Homo sapiens: one gene and its partner. The protein of the gene in region 1 interacts with the protein of each later gene in a pairwise test. Each region holds a gene or a part of one and is shown in the gene's direction. Other genes may lie near its edges.

Region 1 (7,029 bases):
ACAGTTTACTAGAATTGTAATCACAATTTCACATTCTTTAACAGGTATTGAAAATTTAAATTAAAATTCTGATATTTTTGAATGGCATAAAATGCCCTATCTTATCTGAAAATTGAAAAATTAATACAGAAATGTAAATGGATTGTGAATAGGTGGGATCTGGCCAAGTGTGCATTTGTCTAGGCAGTGCTGAGTTTCTGCTCATTATTTAGTAGCTTTCATTCTTCACCTGAGCCAAAATTAGGCTTAGCCAATAAAGCCAAATTTTCCTTCTGGAAGACATGGCAGTGTCTGCCTTGCAGCATGCATCCAAGACCTTATCTGTTTCTGTATCAAACATTGTCAAGATCAGGGCATGAAGAGCCGGGGCATTCCTGACTCCCCCAACAGATGGCATCTCTTCTTTATTATAGGTGACTTCTGGGGGAACAGAAAGCATACTGATGGCCTGCAAAGCATATCGGGATCTGGCCTTTGAGAAGGGGATCAAAACTCCAGAAATGTATGTATGTGTGGCTGTTTTGTCCCCTTTTGGATTTGTCTGTCTGGAGTACAGCTTTATGAAACTAAAGCAGATAATCCATTTTCCTGCTGCTTCTCTTCCTCTGGTAATTCTGGTCCCCTTTCCCCCTGTCCTAGCCCCTCTGCCCTTATCCTTTTACATTCAGTAAAATTCTAAATGGATCAGCCAGTTATTTTTAAAGATCATTCCCATCCCGCCCCACCCCCAGATCATGCATAGTATATACTACAAGCAAAAATAAGATCCTTTTTCCAAAAGTGAGAGTTTGAGGACTACATCTTTGAATCCTGTGATATTTGCAAATTATTTGGAGCCTAAAGAAACCTCTCTAGGTACTTTAGTTCTGCTTACCTTAGAAAGTTACTTAATATTATAGGCTGCCTCAGGGTACTCTCTGGGAAAACTTTAGTGTGAGGGCTGTTTTCTGGGAGGAAGAATAAAAATATCTTTTTGAGATTTACCCACATTGCCTTCCTTGGACATAAATTTGATGTTTAGTTACATTATTTTTTCCTAGACTGTCCCCTTGTACAGTATGTTTATCCTACATCTTAATATTTTTACTGCAAGTATTACTTGACAATGGGGATTTATTGCATATGGTCTCATGCTGTGGTTCATATGTAGCATAAGAGAATAAACCAGGCTGCCATTCTTTCTTCATATGTCGATCTTTGGTGCTTGGTACTTCCTCAGTAGTAGAGATTTTTCTCCTTAGAGGGAACAGATTCGTTGTATGAATGGAGTAGTTGAGGAAAGTCTAAAGCAAATACCCGTGACCTCATTTTCTCTTTCAACACTATTTGAAATACTATTTCCAAATGTGTAGGAGAAATGGGGATTTTAGTTTCTTCAGGTTTGTTGTCTTTCAGAGTTGGAAGGGGCCACTGAGCTGATGCTTGGCCGCTGTGTGAACATTTCTGCTTGAACATGTGTTGTGCCGGGAAGCCTTCTTCTCATTCTCACTGAGGTGCCTGTCTTTGGTAGGCAACCGTTAGCCAGCTCTGCCTTGTGTTGCTCTCATCCAAAGTCTCTGTCCCCCAGCTTTCCGCCTGCCAGCCTAGCTTTATGCTTTGGATCCCTCACTGTGGGATCACTTCTGAGTCCTCTTCCTATTGCCAGAATGATTTCCTAAATAGGAGGGAAGTTTCTGCAGAAAATCAGTTGGCCTCTTTTTGGGTGTGCTTAAAAAGAAAAGTAGAGCAGTCTAAACACTTAAATTTTTAATTTGGGGAAAAATAATCAGAACTTACTCCCGGTAATTTAGATTAGCTGCTAATGGTGTTTTCTATTATTTTGGCCTGAGTTACATTATTCTCCTCTTCCCTGTCATTTAGTGTGGCTCCCCAAAGTGCCCATGCTGCATTTAACAAAGCAGCCAGTTACTTTGGGATGAAGATTGTGCGGGTCCCATTGACGAAGATGATGGAGGTGGATGTGCGGGTGAGTCCCTCTGGAGGGCCCACTGTCTGTGCTGGGCCCTGACAGCAGAAGGGCCCTCCTGTTGACTAGCCGTTTCCAGTCAGATGGGTCTGACTGCCTTTGATTGTGGCAGCCAGAATATGAAAAACTGCATTGATAGTGGTGATTGACTGCAGCTTCAGTCTTTTCATAGGTTCATGAATTCTGAAAGGGAGGTGATCTAGTCACTAACTTGGGACTTGAGAGACACTGGTTTTGCGGTCAGCGCCATCACTTTTTCTTTCTTTTCTCTATTTGTAAAATGAACATGGACTCACTTCCCCTAAGACTCTTACCATGGCCCGGGCATGGTGGCTCACATCTGTAATCCCAGCACTTTGGGAAGCCGAGGAGGGAGGATTACTTGAACCCTTGAGCCCAGGAGTTTGCGACCAGTCTGAGCAACATAGTGAGACCCCATCTCTACACAAAATTTAAAAAAGTAGCTGGACATGGTGGCATGCACCTGTAGTCCTAGCTACTCGGGAGGCTGGGGTGGGAGGATCACTTGAGCCCCAGGAGGTTGATGCTGCAGTGAGCTGTGTTCACACCACTGTACTCCAGCTTGGGTGACAGAGCAAGACCCTGTCTCAAAAAAAAAAAAAAGACTCTCACTGTGGTTTAGATTGGCTTAAATTAATACCATTGTCATTATGATAGTGATTATTTTTATGCCTCACATTTGTGTAGAGGAGTTTTCTAGTTTCAGTGTTCTGTCAGAATCCCATTTGAGCTTTATGACATTCCAGAGAGGTTGATGAAGCTGTTATATTATTGTAGTTCACAGATAAGGAACAGACTGAAGTAGCATACTCAGGGTTTCACTGCTGGTACGTTGTGGGGCTGGGGCTCACATTTGGCTCTTTGGCCTCTTAGCTCAATATTATTTTCGCCCCCACAGCGATTCTGTTCTTATTTTGTGCTCTCAGACTATTCTCCAAATGGACTTACCTGGAGTCACCTGTGTCCTGTCACCGTGGTGGGATGCAGTCTTCTCCCAGTTGGAGTGGTGAAGGAGGGGGTACTGGTGGAACTGGAACTCTAAGCTAGCAGCCCAAATTGCTCTTGGCAGCAGAAGAGAAGAGTAATTGTGACATAGATTCTCATTTTCCTTTAAACTTTAAATCCCTAGGCAATGAGAAGAGCTATCTCCAGGAACACTGCCATGCTCGTCTGTTCTACCCCACAGTTTCCTCATGGTGTAATAGATCCTGTCCCTGAAGTGGCCAAGGTATATGAGAGAAATGGGCTGCTAAGGCAGGCAAATGGATATTTTAAAACAAAGCCTAATGGGGCAGTACTTGGCAAATAGAAGCGATTTTTTTTTTGTTTTTGACCACAGTAGTGATAAGTAGCTCTCATCAGCCCTAGGGGAAGCCCTGCAGCTCAGTTGCAAGCCTTTAAAAGTTGCTAGTCTCTGCTGTGGGGGAAGATAGTACAAGGCTGAGGCCTTTTAAACTGGAAATTCTGAAATAGGATTGCCTTCTAGATTGAGATCTGGAAATAATCTGCATGTAGGAATGTGCCCACCAAAAGGGTGATATTCCACATGCTGCCCCTCAGCGCCTCCCTTTCCCTCACGCCTCATCCTGCAGTGACTGAGGCAGGACCTTTCCCTTGTGCGAGAGGCAGCCTAAATCAGAGCTCTACTCATTTCCTGCTTGATACCGCAGAGCGTTTGAGGTCATGCATATTTAAATATAAAATTGATACCATATTTCAGATGAATTATTTTGAAGGGAAAATACATTTGAAAGATAAATTTTGTTGGGAATGTTAAAAATAGCCATTTTTTAAAAACATGGGAGGCATAATACAAAATAGCCTTGTGTTTATAGCCCATCTTTCCACCCATGTCTTGCAGTTTTTATTATAGGGCTATAAAGGAAATTCTCTTATGTTCTTTGTTTTTTGGAACAAGCTGGCTGTCAAATACAAAATACCCCTTCATGTCGACGCTTGTCTGGGAGGCTTCCTCATCGTCTTTATGGAGAAAGCAGGATACCCACTGGAGCACCCATTTGATTTCCGGGTGAAAGGTGTAACCAGCATTTCAGCTGACACCCATAAGGTGAGCTAAGGAGGAGATCAAGTGTTACCAGTTGATTATTTTGACTATTATTGATAAAATAAATTGGTAGCTTCCCCGCAAAGTATAAAATTAACTATAGAATTCTCATCAGATGCTTGTTTTAAACTCTCTCTTTGCCGTCACCAGATCAGCTGGTTCAGGTGATGGGGTATAGTGGTAGAGGTGACAAGCAGTAGTGAAAATGAACCTGTTACCTTTATCTCAAATTGGCTAAGAGAATTTCTGTATCCACTGACTGTGTGTAACTAGAACATGCTAGTGTAGTGGCCCTTGTTAAAAAAGCTCCCTGAAGCCTTGAGCTGATTTGAGGTGGAGGGTAGAGGAGTGTGAGGGTTGGTAGTGGAGTTCCCATGCTGGTAGATAACATTAGAGCTGCTGTGCAACTGGGCTCCTGAGCGTACATGACGGGAAAATGTTGACGGAAGAGTCCTTTGGAAAATGGGAAGAACCTGTGTGCTCAGGAACATTCAGCATTTGAGATGGCCACGCCTGCCACCCTTGGTGGACTGAGACAAAGTCTAGATCAGTTGATAACGCTATTGAATATACATCCAGATGTGGAAGAAGTATTAGCAGCCTCAGGAATGTGTACCTTGTTTTGATTGCATTTTCAGAGCTTGTTTTAAACTCAAGTATATTAAAGACTTGTTTTTCAAAATCGGTGTGATCTGCAGCCGATTTTCAGTCAGCATCTGTTTTTTCCTTACCATCCAGATAGCTCCTGTGTCCTTTTCCCATAACCATCCATTTCTGGATGGTTCAGGTAATGAAATTAGTTCCACGTTAGTTTTAATAAGAGTTAATTAGGGGGTCAGATGTTCTATAAGGAAACCAGTTACATAGTTAATTTTAAAGCTGGATTAAGTAGCTTTTAGTTTCTGAGCACCATTATGTTCTCATAAGCATAATATTCTTAGTAATACTAAGCAAAAAAAGATGGGAAGGGGGTCAGATGGTGATTTTAACTTGAAGTGACAAATTCCATCCTTTCCTGGCTTCCATTGCAAACTTACCCTTGCTTTCATCCTGACATATGGTCTCCAGAGAAATATTTTAAATAAGGTAAACCACATGCTGGGCAAGAGAGGGAGTAAACCGATTAACTGGGCGCTGTTCTTCCCTGGGTCTCAGATTCCTCATTCCTAACAGAGAGAATTTAAACTCCATCCCTTAAGTTCCTACTATCCTTTAGCATTTTAAGTTTGAATCCTTAATGTGAGTGGGAAACATAACAGAGAAACTGAGAAATAAATAGGATTTCCTTTGCATGATGAGAGTTCTGGGACAAGGTCTGCCAGACAGAACTATACTCTCACTTTTCTTGTCTGCTACTTCTTCCACAGTATGGCTATGCCCCAAAAGGCTCATCATTGGTGTTGTATAGTGACAAGAAGTACAGGAACTATCAGTTCTTCGTCGATACAGATTGGCAGGGTGGCATCTATGCTTCCCCAACCATCGCAGGCTCACGGCCTGGTGGCATTAGCGCAGCCTGTTGGGCTGCCTTGATGCACTTCGGTGAGAACGGCTATGTTGAAGCTACCAAACAGATCATCAAAACTGCTCGCTTCCTCAAGTCAGAGTATGTGTGGAAGACTGGGGTTCTGCCTTGTCTATTGCTTTTTTGTCCTAGTAGGCTCAAGGCACCTGCCTGGCTAAGTATCCATAGCCCTAGCCCACCTGTTGTCTCCTGCGATATAGAGGGCTTAGGGCAGCAGCTTAGGGCTTAGGCCAGACCAGCTGGCCTGGGAGAAGAAGCTCCCTTTCTCTGCCCTGACTTTTGGAGGGTCTTTGAGACGGGGGCCTCATTTGTAGTTTATCTCATCTCTATGGATGTCTTAATAACTGGCAGCTCTTACCCTAAGGCTAATGTACAATTTAATGGTTAGGACAGTGATTCCCAAACTTGAGCATGCATTCTAATCACCTGAAGGACTTGTTAAAACACAGGTAGCTGGGCCCACCCCTAGAGTTTCTGATTCAGTGGAACTGGGATGGGCTCTAAAAATTTCCATTTCTGGAGATACTGATGCTACTGCTCCAGGAATCATACTTGAAGAATCATTGGAATAAGAAAATAATTGGAAATGGGCCAGAAGGAATGAGGAAAGGAGGGCAATGAAATCTTGGGTTAAGCCAAGGCCAGAACAGGCTGCATGCTTTGTCTAATGTATCTGTTAACATCTTATCTGCCCATCTCTCTATGTGTCACTTGGATTGGGGAGGCTCTTTAAGTATATTGAGGGGGAAGGAAAGCTGCCTGCAGGCATTTCTCATTTGAGAAAGATCCTTGGCCAGGCACGGTGGCTCCGGCCTGTAATCCCAGCACTTTGGGAGGCCAAGGCAAAAGGATCGCTTCAGCTCAGGAATTAAAGACCAACCGGAGCAACATAGTGAGACATTATCTCTACAACAAATTTAAAAATTAGCCATGAGGCCGGGCGCGGTGACTCATCCCTGTAATCCCAGCACTTTGGGAGGCTGAGGCGGGTGGATCACCTGAGGTCCAGAGTTCAAGACCAGCCTGACCAACAGGGAGAACCCCGTCTCTACTAAAAATACAAAATTAGCCGGGCGTGGTGGCGCATGCCTGTAATCCCAGCTACTCAGGAGGCTGAGGCAGGAGAATTGCTTGAACCCGGGAGGCAGAGGTTGCGGTGAGTTGAGATGGCACCATTGCACTCAAGCCTGGGCAACAAGAACGAAACTCCATCTCAAAAATAAAAAATAAATAAAAATAAAAATTAGCCACATGTGGTGGTGTGCACCTTTGGTCCCAGCTACACAGGAGGCTTAAGGCAAGAGGACTGCTTGAACAGCCCAGGAATTTGAGGTTACAGTGAGCTATGATCACACCACTGCACTCTAGCCTGGGTGACAGAGCAAGACCCTGTCTCAAATAAATAAGCAAACAAATAAATAAAAATTAGATATATATAAAAGGTCCTCCTAT
Region 2 (5,877 bases), on another chromosome or scaffold:
CTGTGTTCACATAACCCTTATTTTACCTAGTAATAGCCGCAAAGTGCAAGAATGATGATGCTGGCAATTCAGACACGTCAAAAAGAACCCGTAAAGTGCTCCGTTTGAGTGAAAAGGTGAAAGTGTCTCAACTTAATAAGGAAAGGGGGGAAAAACATGCTGCAATTGGTAAAATCTACAGTAAGAAAGAATCTTTTATCTGCAAATTTTGAACAGTATATTGTTATAATTATTCTATTTTATTAGTTGTTGTTAATATATATTACTAATTTATAAATTAAACTTATGTAGATATGTATGTATAGGAAGAGAACAGTACATATAGGGCCTTAGACATTCACTGGGGTCTTGGAACATATTCCCTGTGGATAAGGGGGACTGCCATAATACTCTTATCTACTACAGAGATCATACTTTTATCAATTGCCTCAATAATGTTCTTCATAGCAATTTTTTTTTTTTCTGGCAGGGAATGTGTCTCTTTGTTAAGGGGATGAGACTGGCCTAGCAAGACAAAGATGCATGCTCAGCTCTCCTTAGGATCTTCTTTTTTTGAGACAGAATCTCACTCCGTCACACAGGCTGTAGTGCAGTGGCACCATCTTGGCCTTCTCACGGGTTCAAGCAATTCTCGTGTCTCAGCTTCCCCAGTGGCTGGGACTACTGGTGCGTGGCACCATGCCGGCTAATTTTTGTATTTTTAGTAGAGATGGGGTTTCACCATGTTGGCCAGGCTGATCTTGAACTCCTACCTCAGGTGATCCACCTGCCTTGGCCTCCCAAAGTGCTGGGATTATAGGCAGAAGCCACCAAGCCTGGCCTCCTTAGAATCTTTATGAGTAGGGGAACCCCCAGCAGGTCAATTGTTTGATTTTCTTTGGTTTCATTCTTATTCCATTTCTTCCCTGAGAGTATAAACCTAATCAGCAAGACTACTCAGATGTTAAGAGATCTTTAATAGTAGAAGGAATCTGGCTTAACAAGATGTAGCTTTAGCAGGGGCCTGAGATGTAAAGTTGGACATCTTCCCTCCAGCCTCAGCTTAGGAGTAAGAATGGACTGTGGTACTTTTTCTATTCCTTTTTATCTTTTGTGGGGAAGGTGGGTAACAAGAAGAGTAATAGATATTTGAATAAGCAAAAGCAAATTTGGGTTAAAAATAAAGAGATGGTCTTCTGTGGTAAATCTAGTCCTATATTGACAATAAGGCTTTCTACAAGAATTTCCCTAAAGGAGAGTGTGACACTGTACACGCTTGTCTTCTCAATCATTCTCTGGTTATTTGGCACAAATTTCTGTTTAAGAATCAATTGATGTCAGGGGCATGGTGGCTCACACTTGTAATCCCAGCACTTTGGCCAAAGTGGGATGATTAATTGACCGCAGGAGTTTGAGACCAGCCTGGGCAACATAGCGAGACTCGTCTCAAAAAAAAAAAAAAAAAGAGCTGGGCATGGTAGTGTGTGCCTGTGATCCCAGCTACTTGGGAGGCTGAAGCAGAAGGATCACTTGACCCTGGGAGATTGAGGCTTCAGTGAGCTATGATGGTGCCACTGTACTCCAATCTGGGTGACAGAGCAAGATCCTGTCTCAAAAGGAAAAAAAAAAAAAAAAGAATCAATTGATGTCAACTTTCCTCACTGATTTCCCATATGTAAATTACCTCAGAACTGCTTCCCTTGGTCATCTCCCTACTCTTCAAGAGAAGAAACATGAGGAAACTTCCACATTTTATTACACAGCAACAGGGAATGTGGTAGGGAGGAACAAGAGAAATGGGAATGGAAAGAGAAATCGCTGCCTTGAAGAGGGTAGAGTAATGTGCAGAAGACACAGGAGACCCCAGATACAATGCTGTAGGGCTTAGTGAGATTACAGTCTCTACTAGAGCCAATTTTGATCTCAAAGTCACGTTCTTCCATTTCCCGCTTCCTCTCCAGGCAAAATGAAGCTGAATCTGGTGCAGATCTTTTTCATGTTGCTGATGCTGCTGCTGGGCCTGGGGATGGGCCTGGGGTTGGGACTTCATATGGCTACAGCAGTCTTGGAGGAGAGTGATCAACCGCTCAATGAATTTTGGTCCAGTGACTCACAGGACAAAGCTGAGGCCACTGAGGAGGGAGACGGCACCCAAACCACAGAAACGCTGGTGCTTAGCAACAAAGAAGTGGTGCAACCTGGCTGGCCAGAAGATCCCATCCTCGGTGAAGATGAGGTTGGGGGTAACAAGATGCTCAGAGCCTCAGCTCTCTTTCAGAGCAACAAAGACTATCTTAGGCTTGACCAGACAGATAGAGAATGCAATGATATGATGGCACACAAGATGAAGGAGCCCAGTCAGAGTTGCATAGCCCAGTATGCATTCATCCATGAGGATCTAAACACAGTCAAAGCTGTCTGTAACAGTCCTGTCATTGCCTGTGAGCTCAAGGGGGGAAAATGTCACAAAAGCTCCCGACCTTTTGATTTGACATTGTGCGAGCTGTCCCAACCAGACCAGGTCACTCCTAACTGCAATTACCTAACTTCTGTTATAAAAAAGCACATTATTATAACCTGTAATGACATGAAGCGCCAGTTACCAACTGGACAATGAAGCAACTCATCATCTTTTTTCTCTTCACCTTCTCCTGTTCCTCTTCCTTTTTTACTTCTTCTTTCTCATATAGTTCTCCTGATCTTAGGTATCATGCAGATGGAATTCTTCCTTGCCCTATGGGTCACCCAACTTGCATTTTGTTCCTAGGATTAGAGATGGTAGGATAAGGTGATGATGCCTAGTTTCTCTAAGCTCTCTGCCTCTCCTTTCCCTTACCCTGGAAAGGAGTAAGTGAAGAGCTGCTGTAGTCCGTACTGTAGTCCTGGCCATCCATTTGTTTCCTGCTCTGCTCTGAGTTTGTCTCTGGATGTGGACTGGAAGAGTTTAGTGTATCCTTTACCCATGTTCTTCCCTGCTGCCCACCCTGAGCCTCTACAACAATCACATAAGACTCTTGGGTTTTGCACAACTGCACTTCTCTATTGCGGATGAAGTTAAAGTGATTCTATCTGTAATGGCTTCTGGAGGACCATGTGGAACAGGCTTCCTTTTCCGAGCTTGGAAAAATTTAGGGCCTAGGTATGGGGGTCTGCTGGGGAGGTGGTGTGGTGCTGTAGAGCAAGATAGAAGATGGGCTGGAGCAAGAATAGAACTCTTTTTTCTTGACCCTTCACTGCCCTTTTCTCTTTCTTCCCACCTTTTACTAGCAGCCTCCTTGCTTGGCTTCTTGTTTTCATCTCTTACCTTTGCTTTTGTCCTTTGCTTCTTTTTCTCCTTACTTTCTCTGTTCTCCTTTTCCTCTTCTTTTTCTTTTTGGGCCCGCTCTTCTCTTTATCTGGATCCTTTTAGAGATTCAGTCAGCCGATACTGATCACTTATGCTATGTTGGTCCTATAGTCAGTCATGCAAGCAGATGTTCGTCCTATAGTCAGAGTCTGGCACAGGGAGTTAGAGGGGGGTGGGTCAAGAGAATGAGAAAAAGAGAGAGGAAAAGAGAGAAAGAGAAAGAGAGAGTGAGAAATCTTTTTTGAATTATGTCCAGAAGCAGAATAGTGCTCATATGAGGTGCCCAGTAGATGTGGGATGAATGGGATGGGAGACAGTCTTTTTCTCATTTAGCATCGTTTCCGCTTTATTGCTCTAAAGAACAAGAAAGTTAGTGAAAGAATAATTTCAGCAGAGAAGGTATCAAACTTAATCAAGGAGAAGAGAAGCTGTGTGGCTGGATACACAGAAGATGCAAGTGGCTGCCCTCAGCCTATTTCCTCTAAATTCAAATGAGAAATAGTGTAGTTAGTCATGCATAGGGAGAAGAGGAATCTGAGAACATAGCTGTAAGGATTCACCGTGTGACTGAATTTTGAGATTTCCTTCCCCTAGAGTTTTTCTCTGCTTCACATTCCTAGACTATTATAGACCCAAGTCAGGGACATACATAAATGGGAGACTGAAGGGAAGAACGGTTTGCTTTACTCTGACCTGGCTTGCATTTTCCTGTTCTTTCTGTCTTTATTCTCTTTATCCTTCCTGTTTTCACAGACAGGCAACCACTTTAGTATCCTCCTAGACGTCCCTGATTCAATATATCCCTTATACCTCTGACTCACTTCCAGCAATAACCTCTTAGGAACAGTGTTGTCTCCCAGGGAATTCTAATAATAGTGGACAGGAGGTATGTCTCCATCTGTGGGCTGGCCTGATGTTTTAGAGGTGGTAATGAAGTGGTGAAAGGTGATGACCCAGCCAAGGCAGATTCCTATGCTTCCTGAGGGCGAATCCCTCTCCGGGGAAAGAGACAAAAGATTATCTAAGGTAAGGGGGAAAAAATGAGAAATAGGATGGGAAGAGGGGAAAGAAGAATAGGTGTCAGAGAAAATCGGCCACGTTAGCAATCTGTCTGGTAGGTAAACCAAGGATTTAGGAATGAAATGTGAAAGATCTCCATTGTATGGAGTGAATTATTAAGAGAATGGAATTAGCCAGGGATTAAAGCCTATATTCTCTAGTATTCAGATGTGGCTCCATCCTCTTCAGCTTCCGTCCAGCTTCTCTCCCTAAGCGTTCCGGCACTGTTTGATGGGCATACTCATCTCCTCCGGGTCTTCACTTTGGGCAAATCTCAGTGGGTCATGTTTTTCTTTTGTTTTGTTTTGTTTTGTTTTTGTTTTTTTTGTTTAATCTGACCACGTAGACTATCGCAGGAAAGCAATTTACAAAATACTCCACAGGCGCCTAGTGGCTCAAGCAGGAAAATATAGCTTCCATGGCTGATAACAGGGTGACAAGGCATTGTGGGGACCTCACCTCCCAGGGGCAGAAAATTAACTCACTGTAGCTCAAATTCTGCCTCATTCACAAGACTTTCACCGAGTCTTCTAATTCCAATGTAGCTTCCTCTCTACACTTCCAGGATCTGTGTTGAGCCCATATGACAGATCCCAGTCCCTTATCTACAGTACCCAAATCTCTGAAGCTCTGAAAATGGAAAGTTTTTTTCAAAGTGGCCCCAAAACTCATTTAGATATGACACCTGACTAGATTGACAATGTGAGGCTATTTATCTTGTTTATTTATGCTATGTGACCATTACATATTTCACTGTGGAAATATCACTGTGTTTTGTTATGAGTAGGTCCTTCTAAGAGTGTGTTAGTCATATATGATATAAACATACACACATTAACATACAATAGTGCTTTTTAAAATCTGAAAATGTTGGCCAAAATGCATTGGCCCCAAAAGTTTCAAGTAAGAAATTGTGGGATCTATATATACTATTTAATTAGCCTTAATTAATTTGAGTATACTGGATATGATCCTAGTTAGGCCACTAGCACCTTTGTGGAAGGATCTGTATTATAAGTTTCTTCTATATTCTTCATTGACACATTTATTAATCAATGACTATCTACCTATGGGCCAAGGGATGTCTCCTCTACTGTTTGGAAGACACTCAAATATTGTCTTCAAAACACTCTGTACAAGTTTTTGGCCAGGTGTGGTGGCTTATGCCTGTAATCCTAACACTTTGGGAGGCTGAGGTGGGAAGAACACTAGAGCCCAGGAGTTCAAGACCAGCCTGGGCAACGTAGGGAGACCTCATCTCTACAAAAAATAGAAAAATTAGCCAGGCGTGGTGGCACATGCCTGTAATCCTAGCTATTTGGGTTAGGCTAAGGTGTGAGGATTGCATGAGCCCCAGAGATTAAGGATGTAGTGAGCTATGATTGCACCACTGCACTCCAGCCTAGGTGACAGAGTGAGACCCTGTCTCAAAAAAAAATTTTTTTTAAGTTGTTCTGAGCTTTGCTGCTTATTAACATTACTGTCCAGGAATG

The links.
Region 2: the proteins of SGPL1 (region 1) and RNASE10 interact in binary tests that used the Homo sapiens proteins (3 or more experiments, as listed by UniProt).

What each region holds. Positions count from the first base shown.
Region 1 is NC_000010.11:70,867,932-70,874,960, forward strand, and holds part of SGPL1 (sphingosine-1-phosphate lyase 1), read left to right. Parts: intron 1-413; coding exon 414-502; intron 503-1,860; coding exon 1,861-1,966; intron 1,967-3,116; coding exon 3,117-3,215; intron 3,216-3,905; coding exon 3,906-4,055; intron 4,056-5,419; coding exon 5,420-5,658; intron 5,659-7,029. UniProt on the Homo sapiens protein: Cleaves phosphorylated sphingoid bases (PSBs), such as sphingosine-1-phosphate, into fatty aldehydes and phosphoethanolamine. Elevates stress-induced ceramide production and apoptosis.
Region 2 is NC_000014.9:20,508,527-20,514,403, forward strand, and holds the end of RNASE10 (inactive ribonuclease-like protein 10 precursor), read left to right. Parts: intron 1-1,940; 5' UTR 1,941-1,945; coding exon 1,946-2,596; 3' UTR 2,597-5,358; downstream 5,359-5,877. UniProt on the Homo sapiens protein: Secreted proximal epididymal protein required for post-testicular sperm maturation and male fertility. May be involved in sperm adhesion to the egg zona pellucida. Does not have ribonuclease activity.